3 separate regions of the Homo sapiens genome follow, and regions 1 and 3 are each linked to region 2. The links come from fine-mapping of genetic effects on gene expression. A gene starts in region 2. Each other region holds a variant in brackets. All regions are shown on one strand. Distances are between the middles of the regions. Region 1 overlaps WDR27 (WD repeat domain 27). Region 2 holds the start of WDR27 (WD repeat domain 27). Region 3 overlaps WDR27 (WD repeat domain 27).

Region 1 (5,226 bases), 100 kb before region 2:
GATCGTGCCACTGCACTTCAGCCTGGGCTAACAGAGCAAGACTCAAAAATAAACAAAAACAACAACCACAAAGACATCAATATGACTGACATTTTCATCTCAGTTTCATCATAGTATTTTATTTTTAATTCTATTTAATGTATGGCAGTTTACGGTTTATTTTATTTGTCCTATCTAGATAGTTCTTTGGGCACTTAAAAATGGTAGAATTCTTCTTCCAGCAGTTATCTTTTATTAAAAGCTTTATGCAAAACTCTTGGTCCACTCCTCTCTAAGACAATGCATGTTAGTTCCCTACTATGCCCAATAGTGAGGTTGTCTAGCAACCATTTTTCCATCTCTCTTCCTCTACATCCAATTTTAATCATAATTATCTTAATATTTATACTCTTAATTACATTTAAGAGTTTACAATTCTATTGTCAGCTTCAACTGATCTCTTCTTATTCAATTAACATCTACAAGGAGAATCAAGAGAGGTATTCTACTTTCTAGTTATATTCTCACATCTCCCAGTTTTGTACTATTAAACTATAACAGATAGAATATTTACAAAGTATTCTGGTACCTTCATTCCCATTTTTTATCTTACATAGTTAAACATATTCAGTGCTCACCTTGAGGCTTTTGCTGAAACTTCTTCAATCTTACCTTGGTTTTATACAGCTTTATTTTTTTTTTTTTCAATATAACTCAAGGGAACACCATTCAGTTCTGGCATATTCATAACTGTGTGTCTGGTTTTATACTCAAAAAAAAATTTAGCTGGATATTAAAATTCTTGACTCAGATTCTCTTTTTGAGTAAGTAAAATACATTCTTCCCAATGTTTTTTTAACAAAAAAAGATGATTTACAAAAATCCAATCCAAGCTGATACTCTTTCCCTTATAAGCATTTGAACATTTTACATGGATCCACAAAGGTGTTTTTTTGTTAATGTTTATAGTCAAATAGATTTGTTAAGCTATATTTCTGTGCAAACTAGTCTGAGTCAATTTTCCCAGGTATTCGTTCAATATCTAGATTTAACTAAATTTTTTTAATTTTAGAAAATATATTTTTGAACTATCATAGTATTTGTTCTGTTTAATTGACTTTTTAAAAAAATGTCCAGGGACTCCTTTTACATGTAGGTTGAATCTCTTTTACCGAACTTCTATATTTACCTTTCATCTTGAATGTCTTTTATCATTTTCTTTATTTACTTCTCTCATTTGTATCCTTTTTCCCTATTGTGCTCTCTGTATTTGCTTTCTATTATATTCCTTTGTATTTGGTCTTTATTTCTGAATTTTTTTCTAATGCTTTCCTAATTTTCATCAGTTCTCATTTCATATATTCCTGTTGTCTAGCAATTTCTGATGTTTTATGTGTTTTCTTAACTTTCTTAAGCTAATTTGCAAATATATCATTAGTTTTCACCTGTTTAGCAGACACATTTTTATGGTGTACTCTTGTTGTCTGTGAGAATATTTTTTGGTTCATCCTTATTTTTTTTTGTATTATTAAAAAAAACTGTGATATCTAGAAGTTGTATGACACAGAAATCAGGAGATATAGAAAAAAATAGAGAGAGAAGATAGGTAATTTGGAGGCATGTTGTGAAAGTCCTTTTAAGACACACATAAGATCTTGGTTCTACATAGAGAGCTTGCAGAATATTTTAAACACATAGTATTTACAAAGAAAAGTGTAATCATATTTACATTAAAAAGTGTCATGATCATCAATAATCTGTTTTCTAGTCATTTCTAGTCATTAAGAGAAGTTTGTTAAAGTCTTCCATTATGATTGAAGATACTTCTTTTTCTTCTTAGAGTTATATCATTTTTGATTTATATATTTTGAAACTACGTTATTGGGTGCATACAGGTTTATGACATTTTCTACATAAATTGGCATCTTTGTCATATTAAATGTTGTTCATTATTTTTAGTAATGCATTAAGACCCAAAGTCTACTTTACACTAAAGTATTATCATATCAGCTTCATTTCCCATCCTGCTACTTTCAACACTTCTGTCTCTACACTCTTAATTTCCAATGATATATCTTTCAGTTCTAGGAAAGTCCAACAATGCAGTAAAATTCTCCATCCTTATATCTGTGGTCTCTGACTTGTACTCTATTTCCCTGAATATATTAATCATGGTTATTTTTAAAACCTTGTCTGCTAAGTCCAATACCTGGGTCACCCATAGTATTGTTTCTATTATGTTTTTTTTTCTTGATTTTTTGCCTCTTGACATACTTGTAATTTTTGACTGAAAGCTAAATGCTATGTATATTA[C/CA]AAAAAAAACTCCCAAGGCTCAAAATTACATTATTGTACTCCAGAAAGGTGGGCAGATGAAGCAAGAAAAGACTTCCTTACTATAAACAGAGTTGAGCAGACTCAAGGCTGGATTGCAGCTTGGGTGAGATTCCATCAACTCCTGGTTTATCCAGGGGTAAGCTAAGGTGTCCATTGGGAATTCCCACCCTACTAGCAGGTACTGACCTCTAATATTCATAGCCTCAGCCCTGAAATATTGTTAAAAACCCTACTCTGCTTCTAAAGGTCTTCTGCTGAGCCTACCTGTTTCTTGCCCTCCTTAGCTCCAGAATTGAATAAAATATGTTGACAGGAATACTGGTAGTGTCAGGCATGGCACTTGACCCTCCATGGCCCTAAAGTTTTCAAGTTTTTATCTCTACATCCCTGCAATATCAAAAAAAAGTTCTGCCAATTTTTATGCACAACTTCACCTCTTACCATTCATACACACACACACACACACACACACACACACACACACACACAGATGCATCCCTCTGTATGGCCTTTGCCTGAAACATAGGTCTCTTTTTTTTTTTGTTTAGAAATGGCAAACTCCTTCAGAGAAAAAGTACCTACAGAATGTGAGCTGCCCCTTTGCATCTCATAACCTAGTTAAACCAGGGTTTGTGTAGTAGTTCTGATAGGCACCCTAGTTAGTTTCACGCTATTCCATCATAGCTAGTGCTGAACCTGAATATGAAGAATGTGATCTTATTTGGAAAAAGGATTTTCTGCAGAAGAAATTAACTGAAGGGTATTGAGATCAGCTTGGATTTAGGGTGGGCTGTAAATCCATTATCAGTGTTGTCTTAGTCTGTTTTGTGATGCTATAACACAATACCTGAAACTGCGTAATATACAAAGAATGGAAATGTATATTCTTACAGTCCTGGAGGCTGGAAAGCCCAAGGTCAAAGAGCCAGAATCTGGCAAGGCTTCCCTTCTGCATAATCACACAGCACAAGGTGAAAGGGCCTAGAGGCAAGAGAGGGACAAACTCACCCTTTGTAAGGACCCCACTCCCATGGTAATGGCATTAATCCTTGCAGGAGGGCCAGCTCTCATGGCCTAATCCACCTCTTAAAGTTCCCACCTCTGAATACTGCTAGAATGGCAAGTAAATTTCAACATGAGTTCTGGAGGAGACATTCAAACCTAGCTAGTGTCCCCAAGAGAAAGAACGGGGAAACGAGAGATGTGCAGAGGAGGAAAGGCCACTTGGAGATGGACGCAGAGGCCAGCATGACGCAGCCACACACCAAGGAACCCCAGGGACTGTAGCAGCCACAGAGGCCAGGGAAGCGTGAGGGGTTCCTCCCTTGGACCCTGCAGAAGGGGCCAGCCCTGCTGATGCTTTCATCTCAGACTTCTGGCCTCCAGAGCCGACAGAAAATAAGTGTCTATTTTTTTAACCCTTTTCCTGTTTAGAATTTAAAAATGCAGGTTACTGCCAGCGCTCATTTAACTTTACATAAACGTGCTATTTGAGGCTGAAGCAAATTTGAATGATTTTCAACGTGAAAATAAAATATAAAAACTGTTCTTGAAGTTATTTCTTTTTTTTTATTATACTTTAAGTTTTAGGGTACATGTGCACAACGTGCAGGTTTGTTACATATGTATACATGTGCCATGTTGGTGTGCTGCACCCATTAACTCGTCATTTAACATTAGGTATATCTCCTAATGCTATCCCTCCCCCCTCCCCCCACACCACAACAGGCCCTGGTGTGTGATGTTCCCCTTCCTGTGTCCATGTGTTCTCAAAAACAATAAAGCTTTTCAAAAGAGCACAGAGGACAATACCATCATGATTTGGAAGTGAACAAAGATTATTTAAACAGGACAGGAGAAGCACTAGACAAAAAGAAGAGATTGGTATTTGACATAGAGCTATTCAGTAACATCTATAATTTAGCTGAATTGTTCACATTAGTTATGGTTTATTTATTTATGGACTTTTTTTGGTTGGTAAGCTATTAATTATTGCCTCAATTTCAGAGCCTGTTATTGGTCTATTCAGAGATTCAACTTCTTCCTGGTTTAGTCTTGGGAGAGTGTACGTGTCGAGGAATTTATCCATTTCTTCTAGATTTTCTAGTTTATTTGCGTAGAGGTGTTTATAGTATTCTCTGATGGTAGTTTGTATTTCTGTGGGATTGGTGGTGATATCCCCTTTATTGTTTTTTATTGCATCTATTTGATTCTTCTCTCTTTTCTTCTTTATTAGTCCTGCTAGCGGTCTATCAATTTTGTTGATCTTTTCAAAAAACCGGCTCCTGGATTCACTGATTTTTTGAAGGGTTTTTTGTGTCTCTATTTCCTTCAGTTCTGCTCTGATCTTAGTTATTTCTTGCCCTCTGTTAGCTTTTGAATGTGTTTGCTCTTGCTTCTCTAGTTCTTTTAATTGTGATGTTAGGGTGTCAATTTTTAGATCTTTCCTGCTTTCTCTTGTGGGCATTTAGTGCTATAAATTTCCCTCTACACACTGCTTTGAATGTGTCCCAGAGATTCTGGTATGTTGTGTCTTTGTTCTCGTTGGTTTCAAAGAACATCTTTATTTCTGCCTTCATTTCGTTATGTACCCAGTAGTCATTCCGGAGCAGGTTGTTCAGTTTCCATGTAGTTGAGCGGTTTTGAGTGCGTTTCTTAATCCTGAGTTCCAGTTTGTTCGCACTGTGGTCTGAGAGACAGTTTGTTATAATTTCTGCTCTTTTACATTTGCTGAGGAGTGCTTTACTTCCAACTATGTGGTCAATTTTGGAATAGGCATGGTGTGGACCTCCAGCAAACTCCAACAGACCTGCAGCTGAGGGTCCTGACTGTTAGAAGGAAAACTAACAAACAGATATGACATCCACACCAAAACCCCATCTATACATCACCATCATCAAAGACCAAAGGTAG
Region 2 (5,226 bases):
GGGAAAAGCTCAAGACTCACGTTAGGCAGTGACAAACAGGTTCAACTGCAACAACCTGTAATAACGCAGAAAACTTACCACAGGCTTACTCTCCTGCAGCCCTACAGGAAATTATTGCAAAGAATACGCATTAGCAGCCAACACACGGAATTGGACTAGAGAACTGGCTGGTGTGCAAGCGGAATGGACACGAAAAGAAAGTACGAAGAGCAGGGGCTGCAGCACTGGGAAACCTGAGTGCCCTGAGAGGCTGCAGGGAGGGACAAAGGACCATCAGGTCTTGGCCCTTCAGCAAAGATCTGACCTAGGATGGCTACCTTCCCACTCAAGCCTTTGTTCCACATAACCTCAGGGTATCAGCTGCCCAGGAGACCAAAAGAAAATAAAGTCAGGCTTGAACAGTAGACACAGGAAGAACGACAATGGCATCACCAGCACACAGAGCTGACGAGATACACACAGACCAGAAGCTGCTGTGCTCGTGAGGACACGATGAAGCCTAAGAAGTATCAAGCAAAGAACAGAGTAAGGGCACACGGTGGGCTCAGGGCTGACTGCCTGGTCCCCACTGCCATGCTCCAGGAGTGAGCTATGGCAGCCTTCCAAGACAGCATCCTCATAGCCACATCAGATGAGACCGTGGAGGAAAAGGACTAAGGGTAGAATCAAGGGCCTCAGCAAACAAGCCAGGCACAGTGGCTCACATCTGCAATCCCAGCACTTTGTGGGGCCGAGGCAGAAGGATCACTTGAGCCCAGGAGTTCAAGACCAGCCTGGGCAACATAGTGAGACCCTGTCTCTACTTTAAAAAAAAAAAGTAGTCAGGTGTGGCAGTGCATGCTTGTAGCCCCAGCTGCTGGGGAGGCTGAGGTGGGAGGATCGTTTGAGCCACGGAGGTTGAAGCTATAGTGAGCTGTGATTGTGCCACTCTACTTCAACCTGGACAACAGTGACATCCTGTCTCAAAGGAAAGAAAAAGAACAATGGACAAGGGAATTCCTCCCAGATAGCAGAATCAGGGTCTAGTTGGGAAATTCCTCCCACCTCCACCCCAGCATCACTTCAAAACTGCTATAGACCAGTGTCTGCCATGTGTCTCCCTTTTCCAAAAGGGAGATGGTTACAAAAACCATGGTCATATTTAACCACTGCATTTTAGTGGGGAGAGCAACTAGTTTGTCTTCTTAGTCCATAGGGCTCTGGACCACGAGGAACCACAGCCAGGCCTGATGGAGAGAACTGTGCAATCCTGAGAAATGTTCTGTGTTGCACTAGGCACCTTGACAAAGTGTCCCCCTTGGGGTGGGGAGAGTGTGTTCTCCATGTGGGATCAAGAGTGGAGCAGAGATCTGGTCACCAGAAGAGAGACTACGGTAAGTGCTGTTCCTTTTCCACTAAGCCACTTCCCTTTCCTTCTAGACACAGAACTAAACTACACTCCCTAGCTTCCCTTGCAATTAAGTGCAGCCATGTAGTCGTTGAGTGCCTGGCCCATAAATTCCTCCTGCACTGCCTCTCTTCTTTCCCCACCCACTGGCTAAATGCGGAGAATTCAGAGGGCCTAAGGAAAAAAACCACAACATGGAAGAATTTTAGGCTGCAGCTTGCAGAGAGCTGCCCAAAGGAATCGTCTGACTAGAAACCGCTACACAGGACTGTGTGAGCAAGAAACATGCAACTGTTCTATTGGGGTGAATTGCTACAGCACTTAACCTACCTCCACTAATATAAATTGTTTAACATTTTTTTGAATTACAAAAGCAATACAATACAAAACATTTAAACAATGCAGAAATAATAAAGTTTTTTATCCCTACCTCCTCTCCCTGCTGTGCCAACCCTAGGGGATAATCAATGTCACAGGATATCCCCAGGAATATCCATGTACATACATGCACAGAACAAGTCAGGGAAAATAAACTAAATTTATTATTTTAGTGAGATTCTAGTGCACCTAACACTAGGTAAGCACTTCAGGAAAAGGCAGTGACAAGTGATTGCTAAAGATACCATAGTCTTAAAGTTAAGTCAGTAAACACAAGATAGTAATCCCAGATAAACTGGAAGCTGTAGAGTTAATACTCCTTTACTGGTACAGAGCAGTGTGTGTAAATTGTAGAAAATTTAGAAATACATAAAAAGATGAAAACTCTACTACTCGAGGAGTACCACTGATAAAATCCTGTGCATTTCCGTTTTTTTAATGTACATACGAATATTTTTAAAAAGAGAAAATTACTCCCTTCTGATTAGAAAAGATCGAAATTTTTCTCTTTTAGTGATAATCAAGTCAGAAACTTGCTGTTTGGCTCGAGTTAGGAAAACCTAGCCTGGTAGTTACCACGCAGGTTGAAAGGCCAGTGGGGCATAATTAACGAGCCCTCAGGGTCCACGCTCCCGCCCTCGGAGCTCAGAACCGACGGGAGGTGCAGGAGGCCGGGCATTTCTACAGCCCTGGTTCGTTCCTAAACTACTGAATCTTTTAAAGAGATCTGAGTGCTCCTTATACACAGCTGCTTTAATTAAAATAACCACCTGAGCCCTTTTCCTCCGAACTCCACATGCGCTCAGTTCTCAAAGCGCCGATCTCAAGCGGCCGCCCGGATGCTCCGGCCCGACTTGTGCCCCGAATTCCCCTGGAGACCCTCGCACTAGCACGGCGTCAGGAGGAGGCTTCGGGTGACGAGACAGCGGGCAACGGCTCTGGTCCAGAGCGCGCGTGTCCGCCGTTGGAAGCGGTCACGGCGGAACCCTCAAATCGCCCCCTTTCCTAGAGACCTCAGCGGAGCCGCGAGCAACCGCGCAGCCCCCGCGCTCCAGCCCTGCGCCCTAGGCACACGCCCCAGAGCAGCAGCTCGGGTTCGGCGCCGACTCCGCGCCGAGACCAGCCCGCTAGGGGAGGACTCACAGCACCCAGCTCCCAGGAGGGCACGCAGAGGACTACCGAGCCACACTCCGCCCCACGCTCGCCGCTATGGTTACTTGCCAGCCGACCCACGCGAGCCGCTATGGTTACTAGCCCGCCGCCCCTCGCGCCCACGCCCCTTTCGCTATCTCGCGACAGCTGGAGAAGCCTCGCTTCCGGCCGGCTCACTTACGGACCTAGCGTCACTTCCGCCTCCGGCGAGGCTCCGGCCTCGGGTCCGGATGTATAAAGCGCGGCCCCCTGCGGGGAGTGGTGGTGAGTCCGAGGGTGCCACAGCGGCCCTGCCCCTGCCCCTGCCCCTGCCCTGAGTGGGCGCCGCGCTACGGGGGAGGGGTTAACCCACCCCTCCTCCCCGGGGCCTCACGCGGGTGGGAAGGGACAGTCCCAGCGACAGACCAGGCGCCTGGACGCGCCGTGGACCCGCGTGCGGACGGCGGGGACAGGCTCCGGTGCTGAGCGCCTCCGGTGTCCCCAGCAGCACTGACCCACTTGCAGGCCCCGGAGCTGAGCCGCCAGCCATGGCCGCTCCCCGCGGGAGGGCCGCGCCCTGGACGACGGCCCTGCTGCTGCTCCTAGCCTCGCAGGTCCTGTCTCCGGGAAGCTGCGCGGACGAGGAGGAGGTCCCCGAGGAGTGGGTGCTCCTGCACGTCGTCCAGGGCCAGATAGGCGCCGGGAACTACAGCTACCTGCGGCTGAACCACGAGGGCAAGATAGTCCTCAGGATGCGCAGCCTCAAGGGAGATGCGGATCTGTACGTCTCCGCCAGCAGCCTGCACCCCAGCTTCGACGACTACGAGCTGCAATCGGCCACCTGCGGCCCGGACGCCGTGTCCATCCCCGCGCACTTCCGGCGCCCAGTGGGCATCGGCGTCTATGGACACCCCTCCCACCTGGAGAGCGAGTTCGAGATGAAGGTGTACTACGACGGCACGGTCGAGCAGCACCCGTTCGGCGAGGCCGCCTACCCCGCCGACGGCGCAGATGCCGGCCAGAAGCACGCTGGTGCCCCGGAAGACGCCTCGCAAGAGGAGGAATCTGTTCTCTGGACGATATTAATTAGCATTTTGAAACTGGTACTTGAAATTCTCTTTTGAGTCGTTGACCACACTCTGGGATATAAAACCCTCCATCTGTGAAGCTGATTGCAGTTTGCTGTGAACCTTGCTACTTGTACTTGGTTGAAGTTCTAGGTACCTTTAGTCAAGGGATGGAAAAATAAAGCCATACGCAGTTTTGTTACCTCAGTTACCCCAAAAATAGGAAAAGCAGCAAGCACAGTATTTTAAAGATCATAATTCCTATAAAAGGACTGTGCACAAAGTGTTTAGACTCCATTTTCATTAGGCAGGTTGACTAAAAATGATTGCAGTAACAGGTTTATATAAAATAGAGCAACCTTTCATGCTGTGACACAAATCAAAAGGTTGATAACTTTGTAATTTTACTCTGGAGATTCTAACCGAAGTTGGTGTAAGTTTTCAAGAGTTACTAAAATCAAGTTGGAAATGATTTACGTACACTTCCCTGAGCCTGGACTAAAGCCTCATGCCTGTACCCCAAGTAGGTGATGGTACTTTTCTATACAAAAAGGATTTCCTGGCAGGCAGGTATTTACAAAGTTTGTTCCTGTACCAGTCCAATAATGACAACTCTAAATCCAGCTGCACCAAATCTTAGTGGGCCATTTGTCATACCTATGAAAATTCTTCAGTTATTAAATAACTTTGTCAGTGCTACCTATGGTAGGCCGGAAACAATGTAGATTAGGAAGTTTCATGAAAATTAACTTTTGGGGCTATGGAGAAACAGTTAAGTATCTTAAGTTACTAAACATTTCCACTGAATTTTTGGAGTGAGCCAAGGTTACTATAAAATACTTTGGAAGATGAATTCTCTACCTGGAGTTAGTTTCGAGAGTAAGCGTAGCTTTTAACAGAAATAACTGCAGATTTTAAGCTCATAATTTGCAAAAAAAATCTTTTATTGGCATGAAAATAATGTTGTAAATGGCACCAAATATTCCACTTAAATGCATATACAGTATTAGAGTCAAAAACTATTTTATCCCTCTTTGCTGTTTTTCCCCCTTCTGCCCACTTTCCTGGGTGTTGGGGGGGCCCGCTGACAACAGTCACAAATCCAGCGACCTAGGAAAAAAATTGTTAATATAGAATGAAAAATTATCTTTACAGGACTGAATTTTAAGCCCATCTAAACTCTTCTGCCTTAGCTATCACTAATGATATTCCTCTCTGGATTTTGTGGTGAGAAGGGCACTATGAGTTCCTTAATTTAAGGAA
Region 3 (5,226 bases), 130 kb before region 2:
GATTAAATCCCTCAGGCAATGAGTTAAAGTTACAACTTTGTTAAAGTATTTTAAAATTGTTAAGCTTCATTTTAAATGTACTATATAAGATTTTCTTGAATACTTAAATGACAAAAATAAAATGTAAGATGGTCCTGAGTTCTTAATCAATTATTAAAAATCTAACAAAGCAAACATAAATATGGTGAATTTTAAGTTCTCTTAAAAATTTAAATACTTATAAACTTAGTAATATTTTCCTTTTTTTCTCAACTAAGAAGTCACAAGTCCAAGGTCAATACAGATGTCAAATTAGAATCAGATCTTTTAAAATATCAACATCCTTAAAGCATTGCAAATGCCTTAAATATTAATTATTCCAGGTTATTCCTAAATTCATGCAAGTCTATTAATGCTGTGGCTTTGGTGTATTTTGCCATCTCTACATTTAATTCTAGCCACTAAAATCTTTTCCAGTCTGAAGTGACTTGGGGTTACCATTCTAGGGCAGCTAGAATTGTTTAACGACCAAAGATTTCACCCTCTCACAAAACCCAGAGCCATCTACACTCAGAATGAGTCTTCCTGCCCAACTATCTCCTGTTGGTTGGGTTTTACTGGACTTAGCCCTCTTGAGGGCAGGAGTGTCTTCCATGCTGCTAGGAAGAACCCTGATGCCATCACATTGGGCACCACGGAATGCCATTACCTCCTCATCTACCTTCATGGTCTGCGGGGTCATAGTGTATCCACGTGGACTCGGCAGATCTCTTGCGCTTGATGCTGGTCCCACCACAACACTCATGGCCACAAGGAAACCACAGGTGCTCTTCATGGAGCATGGGGTTGGGGGGTGGTTTAGTCAACGAGAAAGACCTGGGTAGCTGACAACTTAACTTTCAACAAGGACAAACACAAGGACTAAAACAGAAATGAAAAACAAATTTCAACACAGATGAAAATGCTAGACCAGGTGGGACCCAGAGGGAAGACAGGAGAGAAAAAGAACCTTCTCCAACCACTGTGAAGTGTGAGGGGCTATCTTCAGGAGGACACGAGACCAGCAGTGTGTACGTGATGCTTCACTCCCAGGAATACTTGCAGTAAATCATGCAATTCTCTTTACGGACATAGGTTTACTCATTCTCAGCAGTCCTTTCTGTTATCTTTAAAAAGCTCAACTGGCCAGGTGCAGTGGCTCACGCCTGTAATCCCAACACTTTGGGAGGCCTAGGCGGGCGGATCACCTGAGGTCAGGAGTTGGAGACTATCCTGGCCAACATAGTGAAACCTCGTCTCTACTAAAAATACAAAAATTAGCCAGGCGTGGTGGCGGGCACCTGTAATCCCAACTACTCGGGAGGCTGCGGCAGGAGAATTGCTTAAACCTGGGAGGCGGAGGTCACAGTGAGCTGCGATTGTGCCATTGCACTCCAGCCTGGGCCACAAGAGCGAAATTCCGTTTCAAAAAAAAAGAAAAAAGCTCTATTTAGGAAATCTCTCCTCATAAGACAGGACGCAGGCCAGGAGTCTCCCGTGGCGGCCAGGAAGGAGGGGACAGCAGGAGCTGCACCTCAGCCTTGCCCTCTCGGCCAGGCCCACTCCCTGCCCGGTATTCTCTGTATACAAGCATCACCACAGAGCAGACTGTTTCAATTATGAGTTCTTAGAAAGAAATAGTGCAATCTTGCTCCTGAATTTATAAATTAGCGGATACAGTGATCACAAATATCACAGGTTTTTATCCCATGTAAAAACCAAGGAATGTAACCTTTCCTCCAGGTATATGCTTATGTCATTTTTCCCTGGCAAAGCTAAACCACAACTCTCAAAGTAATACAGCCTAAATAAAACAGATTTAAATTTCACACCCACATACCTTAGTCAGAAAAAAATTAAAAAAAAAATAAATAAAAAGATGACTCAATGAAGAATACTGGAGATTTAAAGTTTCCCAGAAGTTAACAATGCTGTCTTTGCATTTCTATTTGTACAATGACTCACACAGATTACTTCTGATAACCCCACTCTCATCAAAGTCTTAATAAAGTGAACGACATGCAGCTGAATTCCCAACTTTTCGGACTCAAACCAGCAATTAGCAGGAAAAGAGCCATGCTATCCTGGCATAAACATTTACGTTCCACATTCAACACCCAGCAACCACTCAAAAACTGCATTGGGCCACGTG[C/T]GGCAGCTCGCACCTGCAATCCCAGCACTTTGGGAAGCCGAGGCAGGAGGATCGCTTGAGCCCAGGAGTTCAAGGCCAGCCTAGGCAAACTGGTGAGACTCCATCTTAATACAAACAATAAATAAATAAATAATTAGTCGGGGGTGGTGGCTTGAGACTGCCAGTCCGAGCAACTCAGGAAGCTGAGGTGGGAGCATCACTGGAGCCAGGGGGTTTGAGGCTGTAGTCAGCCGTGATCACACCACTGGACTCCAGCCTGGGTGACAGAGCAAGACCCTGTCTAAAACAAACAAACAAAAAACTACAACACACACCAAAGAGCAGGGGAGGTTTGGAGGGAGATCAACTGTCTCTCGACAGAGCAATTAACAGAACTATATTCAGAAATAACCCAGATATTGGCACTGTCAGTCAGGAATTAAAAATTATTATAATATGTTAAAAGTTCTGTAATTTCAGCAGAGACACAGATCTCTGGAGGAAAAATTTTCTAGGCCTAAGGTAATCAGAATAAATCAAACTGGAAAAAGAAAACAAAACACAAAAAGCCAAACCAAATCTAGAGGAAACATATAGTGTAAATACAAAGATGAAAATTTTAGTTTTAAATTAAAAGCTACAGCAATCATTAGGTAAAACATTGAGTCTGAAGTATAAAGAGATGAAGGATATAAACATGCAATTTAAAAATTAAAAGAATTCTGGGCCGGGCGTGGTGGCTCACGCCGGTAATCCCAGCATTTTGGGAGGCCGAGGTGGGCAGATCACGAGATCAAGAGATCGAGACCATCCCATCCTGGCCAACATGGTGAAACCCCGTCTCTACTAAAAATACAAAAATTAGCTGGGTGTGGTGGTGGGTACCTGTAATCCCAGCTACTCGGGAGGCTGAGGCAGAAGAATTGCTTGAACCTGGAAGGCGGAGGTTGCAGTGAACCGAGATCGTGCCACTGCACTCCAGCGTGGGCGACAGAGCGAGACTCCATCTCAAAAAAAAAAAAAAAAAAAAAAAAAATTAGAAGAATTCCAATACCTAGTAGCCTGTGGGACAATGTGCAATCTCATTAGTATTCAAAGAGCAGTAAATTAAAATCGGGAGTTACTGTTTCTTGATAATTAACAAACGTAATGCAAGTGTGAACAACCAAAGCTGGTGAGGAAGCAAACAAGAGGAAACACTTTGAGAAGCATTTGTCTATAGCAGAACCCTTTAAAAGTTTATTTTTCTCAGTAATACTACTTGTTGAGAAAGTAATCTATCTTGAGAAAATAAACCCAGATACAAAAAACATTTTATGCCCAAAGACATACATCAAAACACTACTTATAGTACCAAAATATTGAAAACCATGTCAATGTCCACTCTACATGATATAACTACTTATAGATAAATCAGTTTGCAAATGTCTGTTTCTGCCTTTCCTGCATGTGTCAATGCGCCGCATACCAGCCCCCAAAACAGAGCCGTCCCCACGCCACCCTGCAGACCTTCCCTCCGCACTCCTGCTTTCTTCCCTTCCCAGGAGGTTGTGTTGCAGCCCGAGCCTCCCGGGGTGCACCTGGGCTCTGCACGCAGACCTCCGCCTTCGTCTGTGTCTTGTCTTTCACTGAAACTCTCCGAGAACCCCCCAAGTTTCTACATTGTGTTCTAGGGTAACAGTACTGACATGGTTTAGATGTAACTCAGTATAGCTGGAAAGACCAAAGCAAGTCTTATGATAAATCCTGCACAACTGAGAAATGCAAAATTGAAAATAAAGCCCAACTACCCAATACAATATGAAAAGTTTTTATATCATCTTACATTAATCCTCTTTTATTTCATTACAGTTGACCCCTGAACAAGGGTTTGAACTGTGCAAGTCCACTTATAGATGGATTATTTTTCAACCAAACTCGGATCAAAAATACAGCCCCCCAGGATGTGAAACCCAGGCAAATGGAGGGCAGACTATGTGGGTTCTGTAGGACTTGAGTGTGTGAGGATTTGGGAGCACACGGGGGACCTGGAACCAATCCCCCATGTAGACCGAGGGATGACTGTAACTATTTTACAACTGACAATAGAAAATTGATGATTGCGATAGTAATATAAAATCAATTTGATAATATAAGGTAATGTGATATTTGTGACTCTGCTATCCATTCCAATAAATTATATCTCTGTGTATCCGCGTGTGAAGCAGCTTTCTCCATACTTAACCTGCACGCTTCCTGTTCTTCCTGAACTCCCTGTGTGAACAGTAGGCTCCCTCTGCAGCCCACACTTTCACACTCAGGGACCCATCAGTTACATCACAGCTTTCTTTCGTCTTTTGCATCTGTGGTTTGAGATACTTCTGCCTTGCTAGTTTTTTGCTGGAAATAAGTCTTGCTTGGCTACCATCTCAGCCAGGATAATTTAACTATGGAGCTTCTTGAATTTGTGTTCCCATCCTAAGCAGTTAAACAGCTACACTGATATCTTATGGCAAATATACCACTGTCCTCAGATGTCCAACAAACTGAAGCTGACAACGCATCCCTAAGTCACATCTGACAGGGCGCATGTGGCGCGCAGCTGCAGTTCCTGGCAGGACACCCAGGTGTGCTTCAGAGTCTTGGATTCCGAAGCCACTCTGCAGAGCCTGTGGTCCCTTGTGAGCTGTTACAGTTCCTTACTCATTTTGAGGGTCCTCTTAGCCACAGGCATTGTTAGAATAATTTTGTAAGTACAAGTATAATCCTCTTCTTCCCAAAGACTCACAAGTCTTATTTTGACAACTGAGCAGTAACAGTGATGAAAAACATTACTTTTTTTTAAGCGTATCTAGAAATTTACTCTGAGAGGCTCAAAACTTTAGTTTTGGAAAGGGGATAATCGTTCTCACAATTAAAATGTATTAAAACAAAACAAAAACAAGTCATGGAATCTGTCTCCCGCTTTTCAAAAGTGATGTGAGTTCCCTGAAACAAGATCGGTGAGTGCCACATCCGCCCCAGGTGACACACTCGAAAGCAGGGTTCCCAGAACGTGCCAGCCTCGGTCCCAGCGAGAGGTGGGAAGCTCATCCTGC

Evidence for each region.
Region 1: its variant is fine-mapped to the expression of WDR27 in atrial appendage (GTEx, PIP above 0.99).
Region 3: its variant is fine-mapped to the expression of WDR27 in whole blood (INTERVAL, PIP above 0.99). The same link has a PIP of 0.9 or more in aorta.

The regions. Positions count from the first base shown.
Region 1 is chr6:169,595,117-169,600,342 of GRCh38, forward strand. All of the region lies in intron 23 of WDR27 (WD repeat domain 27), which reads right to left. Among named protein-coding and RNA genes, the nearest start is that of WDR27, 100 kb to the right of the region's middle. The variant C/CA (reference allele first, on the strand shown) is at 2,293.
Region 2 is chr6:169,699,016-169,704,241 of GRCh38, forward strand. WDR27 (WD repeat domain 27) reads right to left here and starts at 3,014. Exons shown (of 26, transcript NM_182552.5): 1 at 2,536-3,014. It overlaps C6orf120 (chromosome 6 open reading frame 120), which reads left to right and starts at 3,111. Exons shown (of 1, transcript NM_001029863.3): 1 at 3,111-5,226. The coding sequence starts at 3,445. The coding sequence ends at 4,020. PHF10 (PHD finger protein 10) reads right to left here. Exons shown (of 12, transcript NM_018288.4): 12 at 4,887-5,073. The coding sequence ends at 4,988. RefSeq lists enhancers at 2,568-2,647, 2,968-3,057 and a silencer at 3,108-3,477.
Region 3 is chr6:169,569,385-169,574,610 of GRCh38, forward strand. It overlaps WDR27 (WD repeat domain 27), which reads right to left. Exons shown (of 26, transcript NM_182552.5): 25 at 3,035-3,156. Among named protein-coding and RNA genes, the nearest start is that of WDR27, 130 kb to the right of the region's middle. The variant C/T (reference allele first, on the strand shown) is at 2,171.